Linked DNA regions of Homo sapiens: all the other regions are linked to region 1. Evidence: fine-mapped expression QTL. A gene starts in region 1. Each other region holds a variant in brackets. All regions are shown on one strand. Distances are from middle to middle.

Region 1 (2,755 bases):
TCCCAAGTGGAACTAGACTCACAGACCTAGATTGCTGACCCCTGCCTGGTTTAGCACAGCTCCAGATTGCAGAATTCCACAGCTATATTGCGAAGGCTGAGCCTCCTCTGCATACTGACAGTGCCTCAACTCCACCCAGGTTCTCCACACCTCTCGGCAATCTCAGGTCACCTTGGGACCAGGTTCACAGCACTGCCTTCCTCTCCTGCCCTGCCAGCCTGAGGTGTGATACTGACCGTGCGCCACATTGCTGATGCAATCGATGTATTCTGCCCCCTGTTCATCGTACATGTACTGCCCTTGGGCCCGGACAATCTTAACAGGATCCTCGGGAAAAAAGAGTCTGCAGGAAGAGCTGTGGGGACAGGCAAGGAGTGGACAGCCATGTCTGAAGACCGAAAGGGTGAAGTCTACTCATCGCAGACCCCCGCCCACCCCTTCCCAGTTTCTGGTGGCGGGGGGGAAATGAGAGCTGGAAGGGCAAGGTGCTGCTTCCCTGCCTTGTCTCTCCACTCCACAGGTGGTTGCAAAGCAGGAAGCAGATGGGGTAACAAGTCGCTGAAACTTCGGATTGTTTCTGAAAGCATTTTCAGCCTCTGTGGCCTCCTTGCTCATTTCTGCATGTGTCCGCGTCAGTCTCCCGGATCCTGAGAAAAGGTGGCTGCCCCGTCCCATGGGGACTCCATAAGGCCGCGTGTCTTCGATGGGATGGGCCAGGGCACCAACATTAGGTGCCTGGCTCTCAGCCCTAAACAGCTCCTTGCCAGCCACGTGGCCCTGCTGCCCCTCGCTGGGTGCCAGCCCTAAGCTCCAGTGGGAGGCGACCTCACCCACCGTCCCACCGAGGGCCCCCTCACAGGTCAAGTGTGCTGCCTGTGAACCGACTCCCCCGACTCTCCCTTGTCTGCCCTTTCAGCCCCCTCCCAGGTCACTCTCGAGCCAGGCCCAGGTGCTGCTGACGGGCCACCCTGGGTGAGGTCCTCTCAGGCGCCAGGGTGAAGGTCTTCTCCGGAGTAAAGGCTGCCAAGCGAGGCTGACACAGCCGAACAGCGGTGAGGGCGGGGCCGTCTCCTGAACTGGGCGGCCTGGAGACGGCGCTGTCGGGGAGGCGGCCCCGGAGACCACCCGCCGGGACTGCCCAACGGCGCCGCCCGCCTCGGGCCCTAGAAGCTCCAGCGGGGCCGGGGCAGCGGCCGGACGGGATGGGTAGCAGCGGCTTCCTAGCCGGAGGCGCGTGCGTAGTGCGTGCGTGCGTGCGTCGTGCGTGCGCGTGCCTCTCCGCGCAGCCCCGCGCCCCCCGCCGCCCGCCCCCCGCCCGGGTACCTGATGAGCCGTTGCCTCAGGGCCAGCGTGTCGGCCTTCGGGCGCTGGTCTGCGGCCATGGTGGGTGGCCGTCAGTCGGTGCCGTGACGCCACGCGGAGACGTCGCCGCGCGGGCTGGGCCTCCAAGGCCCCGCTCCGGGCCCCGCCCCTGCCTGGGTCGGGATTTGGGGCTCAGGTTCGCACTCGGCCCCGCCCCGAAGCGCCCGCGTTGCGGTGGTTCATTTCTTCGCTTGCCCACTGGGCCTGGCAGCCTTCCGGCCCGTGGTCGTGCCTTGGCAGTCCCGCGCAGGAACTCGAGCGCTGCCCCGTCTCTGGTTCCGGGACGCGCCCCGGGCCTCGCCCCGCAGGCCCCGCCCCGCAGGCCCCTGCGGCCTCCCTTCCGGGAAAGGGTCCCGGACGACCCCGCCCCTGCTCCCGGCGCCCAGGCGGGGCTCGGAGCTCCTGCAGGCCTTCTCTGGGCCAGACTCAGTCTTTGAGTCGCCTTGTGCATAAAATGGGATGAACTGTGAGGCCTAAGTGCGAGTATGTGACTGGTACCTTACCCGGGCCTGGTACACAGTAGGGGCCTCAGGGTGGGAGAAGCAGGTCCTAGGTTTTCCCAGCCCCATGAAGGGGCAGCAGGAAGAGCAGAAGGAGAGCCCAGGGTCCCTTCTGGGGCTGACCAAGGAGATCACCATGGGCTTGACCTTCAGGGCACCATAGTTCCTGCTAGAATCTAGGCAGGGTGAACCGGACGAGCTGTATCGTCGCTGAGAGAATCATGCAGCGTTTGGGCAAGAAGAGAGGTTGGGAATCCTCCTTGTGGTACATGTCGGTGACCCTGAAGCCCAGAAAGGGAAAGGGTTTTGTTGTCAGACACGCAGCAAGGCTGCAGAGGCTGGACTCCTACTGAGGTCTTCTTGACTCCCAGCCCAGGGAGTGAGAAGAAAAAGCCTCCCAAGGGGCTGGGATATGAGAGAAAAGCCCCCTCCTGGGGTGAGGCACTGGGGCTTTCTGCCTTGAAGAACCCTGGAACACGGGCCTGGGACTGCAGCAGGTGCAGGGGAGGCTCCTGATTGTCCCTTCTTTCTGTCCACATCATGATTCCCAGGCCTCTGCTTCACTCCCTCATTGCTGATTTCTTCTTCTCTTCCCAATACAGTTGTAAGATGCATAAGGCATTTATTGAACTCTTGACCTCAGATGATCTGCCTGCCTCGGCCTCCCAGAGTGCTGGGATTACAGGCCGGGTGAGCCACCGCACCCGGCCGCTTAAGGCATTTATTAAAGAACATTTGGAGTTTCTTTTTTCTTTATTGTGTAAAATATACATAACAAAATTTTACCATTTTAACCATTTTTAAGGATACAATTCAGTGGCAAAAGTACATTCACATCGTCGTGCAGCCATCACCACCATCCATGCAACAGGACTTTTTCATCTTCCCTAAAA
Region 2 (2,755 bases), 42 kb before region 1:
GCTCTGTAAAATGTTTAAAGAAGTTTATTCTCTGGCGTGAACCCGGGAGGCAGAGCTTGCGCCACTGCACTCCAGCCTGGGTGACAGAGCGAGACTCCATCTCAAAAAAAAAAAAAAAAAAAGAAGTTTATTCTCAGCTGATATGAGTGACCATGACCTGGGGTACAGTCTCAAGAGGTCCTGAGAAAGTGTGCCTCAGATGGTTGGGTTATAGTTTGGTTTTATACATTTTAGGGAGACAGAGGTTACAAGCAAATACATCAATCAATACATGTAAAGTACACATTGCTTCAGCCTATAAGGGCAGGACAACTCCAGGGGAGTTACAGGTCATAGGTGATTCAAAGGTTTTCTGATTGGCAATTGGTTGAAAAAGTTAAGCTTTGTCTAAAGAGTTGAAGTGGCTGGGTACAATGACTGACATCTGTAATCCCAGCACTTTGAGAGGCCGAGGAGGATGGCTTGATCCCAGGAGTTTTCAACAAGCCTGGGCAGCGTAGTGAGACCCGGTGTCTACAAAAAAATTTTAAAAATTAATTGGGCATCGTGATGTGCACCTGTAGTCCCAGCTACTTGGGAGGCTAAGGTGGGAGGATTACTTAAGCCCAGGAGGTCGAGCCTATGGTGAGCCATGACTGTGACACTGCATTCCAACTCGGGGGACAGAATGAGACCCTGTCTCAAAAATAAAATAAAACAGGCCAGTTGCAGTAGCTCACACCTGTAATCCCAGCACTTTGGGAGGCCAAGGCAGATGGATCACTTGAGGTCAGGAGTTCAATACCAGCCTGGCCAATATGGTGAAACCCCATCTCTACTAGAAATAGAAAAATTAACTGGGAGTGGTGGCATGCATCTGTAATCCCAGCTACTCTGGAGCCTGAGGCAGGATAATTGCCTGAACCTGGGAGGTGGATGTTGCAGTTAGCCGAGGTCGCACCATTGCACTCCAGCCTGGGCAACAAGAGTGAAACTCCATCTCCAAAAAAAATAGTAAGATAAAATAAAATAAAGAGTTGAAGGCATGGTGGCTCACGCCTGTAATCCCAGCAGTTTGGAGGCCAAGGAGGGCAGATCACGAGGTCAGGAGTTCGAGACCAGCCTGGCCAATATGGTGAAACCCTGTCTCTACTAATAGTACAAAAATTAACTGGGTGTGGTAGCACACATCTGTAGTCTCAGCTACTCTGGAGGCTGAAGCAGGAGAATC[G/A]CTTGAACCCAGGGAGGTGGAGGTTGCATTGCACTCCAGCCTGGGCGACAGAGCGAGATTCCATCTCAAAAAAAAAAAAAAAAGCGTTGAAGTCAGTGGGAAGAAATGCTTGGGTTAAGAAAGGGGTTGTGGAAGCTGAGGTTCTTGTTACGTAGATGAAGCCTCCAGGTAGCAGCCCTCAGAATAGATAGTGAATGTCTCTTTTCAGACCTTCAAAAGTCTCAGACTCTCATTGAATCTCTCCTAAATCTGACAAAGTCCTGGCTACATTAATGGAAATTCTCTACAGATGCAAATTTCCCCCATGGGAGACAGCTTTGCAGGGCCATTTCAAAATATTGTCAAATAAATATATTTTGGGGTAAAATATTTTGATGCCCTTCAGGGTCTGCTATCTGTTACGTGATGTACCAGAGTCAGGTAGAAATTTGGCATCTTATTGCTACAAAAATTCTGTTTTGAGCCAGGCACGGTGTCTCACACCTGTAATCCCAGCACTTTGGGAGGCTGAGGTGGGTGGATCACCTGAGGTCAAGAGGTCAAGAGTTTGAGAGCAGCCTGGCCAACATAGTGAAACCCCATCTCTACTAAAAATACAAAAAATTAGCTGGATGTGGTGGTGGGCGCCTGTATTCCCAGCTACTCAGGAGGCTGAGGCAGAAGAATTACTTGAACCCGGGGGCCAGAGGTTGCAGTGAGCCAAGATCATGCCATTGCACTCCAGCCTGGGCAACAAGAGCGAAACTCTGTCTAAAAAAAAAAAGTCTGTTTTGTCAGTCTTATGATCTCTATTTTATTTATTTATTTTTAATTTATTTTATTTTATTTTTGAGACAGAGTTTCACTCTCGTTGCCCAGGCTGGAGTGTAATGACGCTATCTCGGCTCACTGCAGCTTCTACCTCCCAGGGTCAGACAATTCTTGTGCCTCAGCTTCCCAAGTAGCTGAGATTACAGGCATGTGCCACCATGCCTGGCTAATTTTTTGAATTTTTTGTAGAGATGGGGTTTCATCATGTTGGCCAGGTTGGTCTCGAACTCCTGACCTCAAGTGATCCACCTGCCTTGGCCTCCCAAACTGCTGGGATTACAGGAATGAGCCACTGCGCCTGGCTAGAATAAATACTTTATGCTTTGGGCCAACAGGCAAAATCGAGGGTATGAAGTCGGTAAGTACATACCAAGAAATGAAACCAACTTCCATAATTTGGGGGGATTGCTATTGACAGAATGTCAAAGTTAATTTATGGATGCTGAAAGTTGAGTTTCATACAATTTTTATGTGTCATGAAATATTATTATTTTCATTATTTATTTATTTATTTGTTTATTTATTTATTTATTTTTGATACAGAGTCTTGCTCTGTCATCCAGACTGTGATCTCAGCTCACTGCGACCTCTGCCTTCTGGGTTCAAGCGATCCTCTGCCTCAGCCTCCCAAGTAGCTGGGATTACAGGCACATGCCACCACACCTGGCTAATTTTTTTGTATTTTTAGTAGAGATGGGGTTTCACCATGTTCAAGGCCAGGCTGGTCTTGAACTC
Region 3 (2,755 bases), 37 kb before region 1:
GGGAGGTGCGGAGGGGATGGTCCTGTCTGTGGCTTCCTATTTCTTGGCTGGCAGGAGAAAGGCAGGCTTTCTGTGTCTATGTCTCTGTGGTCTTTCAGACTCAGCACTTGGGTAGGAAGATGAAAACCTCGGAGTGCCCCTTGTCTCTTTCCCTTGGGTCTGATTAGACCAAAGGCTGGTGTGGTGGAGGAGGTGAAAGGACCTGGCACGGGGAGGCTGGAAGCCCAGCGCTGCTCTGCTCACTTTCCCCTCTGCCAGCCTTTGTTACCAAAAGGTCTGGACTTGATCTTGGAAATGCATCATTTCTTGATCCTTCTCTAGCCTTTAGGGACAAATATACTAGAAGAAAATGGTCAAGACAATTGGTGCCACCAGCAGGAGGCATAGCAAGGAAGCAGGGGGTGAAAGGGTTTCTCCTTGAGAGAAGCAAGCCTCTGAGTCCAAGGCCCTCCACCAAGCGGCTCTGGTCCAGTGTTCCAGCCTTATTGCCCATCCTGCTCCATGTATGGAGTTGGGGGTTGTCACCACACACAAACACAACGTTCTGCCAACTCACCCTCCTCGATGTCTCTGTTCATCCCCTCCTTCCCATTTCCTCCACTGGACCACCGCCATAGCAGTATTCACTGACTTCCAGTTTCCTGCGGGATAAATCTGAACCCTTTGTCGTGGCACCCAAAGCCCTTGCCCAGCCGCGCTGTCCCAGCTCCTCTTCATCGTGTGGAGCAACTTGCAGTTCTCCAAGCAGCCTCTGCTTTCTCAAGCTTGGAACCTGAGCTGTGTCGTCTTCTCTGCCTGCACCCCTTCTTTTCCATCTCTGCTGGAGAACCCCTGCTTAGCCTCAGTAAAGATGTTTAAGGGACAGTTATGCATGAGGGTTTAGAGTTCACAGACCCAGTCTGTCCTGGAGGTCAAGGGCATGTTGCTGGCAATTGCAGCGTCAACAATTCAATTGAGTAAATACATGAGTGAATAGATGAATTGTTGTGGAATCAGAAACTGAGGCTCGGCCGGGCACGGTGGCTCACGCCTGTAGTCTCAGCACTTTGGGAGGCCGAGGCGGGCGAATCACGAGGTCAGGAGATTGAGACCATCCTGGCTAACACGGTGAAACCCCATCTCTAC[C/CA]AAAAAAAATACAAAAAGTTAGCTGGGCATGGTGGCGGGTGCCTGTAGTTCCAGCTACTCCGGAGGCTGAGGCAGGGGAATGGTGTGAACCCAGCAGGCGGAGCTTGCAGTGAGCCGAGATTGCACCACTGCACTCCAGCCTGGGCGACAGAGTGAGAGTCTGTCTCAAAAAAAAAAAAAAAAAAAAAGAAACTGAGGCTCAATCTGGGCACGGTGGCTCATGCCTATAATTCCAGCACTTTGGGAGGCTGGGGTGGGTGGATCACGTGAGGTCAGGAGTTTGAGACCAGCCTGGCCAACATGGCGAAACCCCGTCTCTACTAAAAATACAAGAATTAGCTGGGCATGGTGGCGGGCGCATGTAATCCCAGCTACTAGGGAGGCTGAGGCAGGAGAATCGCTTGAACTTGGGAGATGGAGGTTGCAGTGAGCCGAGATCACACCATTGCAATCCAGCCTGGGCCAGAGAGTAAGACCCTGTCTAAAAAAAAAAAAAAAAAAGAAAGAAAAAAAGAAACTGAGGCTCAAAGAAAGAGCCCGCAGGTCCACACTGACCTAGTGGCAATGCAGACATAAACATAAACAAAGCCTCTTTTAGGAGCCACTGCTGCCTCTCAGAGGGAGACAGAAATTTCCCGGTTTAATAGGCTTTCTCCCCACCTAATCTGCAGTAGTGAGTCCTAAAATCTGTCCCTGTCCCAATGACTGGTGCCTAGAATGCTTCATAAAAGTGAGAGTCCAGCCCCAGAGGTCAGGGAGTCTGAAGTTTCAAAGACTACACAGGGGATAATGTTGCAGATGAGGCCGGGCCCCTGTGTGAGCTGTGCCCACTGTGTGCAGCTTTGTGAGCTCTCCAGGAAACTGGGAGGATTAGGGTTTTGTATGTGAATCACATACTTCATTAAGGACTGATTCCAGTATAGGGCTCTAGCCATTTCTGATTGGTTTCTGATGGACAGAGGCTGCCTCTGAGACTCAGCAGGGCGTGGGGTGGCTGTGGCAAGAATGTGTGATTTTAGGGAGGCCGCCAGCAGATTCTCTCTCCAGATCTCTTACTTGTCTGTTTCAAGGATTTGACTTGAGATGTATTTTGAGATATATTGTTGCGGGGTGGCTGGGGGCCTGGGGGTGTCAGCAGGCAAAGGAATGTTCCCTTGGATGCTTCCACTGTTGCTGTTAGCAGTCACAGCAGCTCTCACAGCGGGCGCTGTTCTAAACCCTTAGCAGCCGTCCTCCCATAGCCCTGCAGGATGGTGGAGAGACAGGTGCCATTCTCTTTTTTTTTAAGATGAAGTAGGTCGGGAGCTGTGGCTCATGCCTGTAATCCCAGCCCTTTGGGAAGTTAAGGCAGGCAGATGGCTTGAGCCCAGGAGTTTGAGACTAGCCTGGGCAACACAGGGAGACCCTGTCCCTAGCTAAATAAATAAATAAGCTGGGTGTGGTGGTGCATGCCTGTAGTCCCAGCTAAGTGGGAGGCTGAGACGGGAGGATCACTTGAGCCCAGGAGGTCGAGGCGAGCCGTGATCACATCACTGCACTCAGAGCAAGACCCTGTCTCAGAAAAAATGTAAAAAAAGATGAAGAAGCTGAACTTCATGGAGGTCTGCTTAGGGATCCACATCTCAGATGC

Evidence for each region. PIP is the estimated chance that this variant, and not a neighbour inherited with it, causes the effect.
Region 2: its variant is fine-mapped to the expression of PHYKPL in whole blood (INTERVAL, PIP 0.98).
Region 3: its variant is fine-mapped to the expression of PHYKPL in whole blood (INTERVAL, PIP above 0.99).

The regions. Positions count from the first base shown.
Region 1 is chr5:178,231,169-178,233,923 of GRCh38, forward strand. It overlaps PHYKPL (5-phosphohydroxy-L-lysine phospho-lyase), which reads right to left and starts at 1,634. Exons shown (of 13, transcript NM_153373.4): 1 at 1,324-1,634; 2 at 237-355. The coding sequence starts at 1,382. RefSeq lists silencers at 1,059-1,378, 1,459-1,868 and an enhancer at 1,258-1,796.
Region 2 is chr5:178,189,336-178,192,090 of GRCh38, forward strand. No RefSeq gene overlaps it. Among named protein-coding and RNA genes, the nearest start is that of GMCL2, 3.3 kb to the left of the region's middle. The variant G/A (reference allele first, on the strand shown) is at 1,211.
Region 3 is chr5:178,194,313-178,197,067 of GRCh38, forward strand. No RefSeq gene overlaps it. Among named protein-coding and RNA genes, the nearest start is that of GMCL2, 8.3 kb to the left of the region's middle. The variant C/CA (reference allele first, on the strand shown) is at 1,126.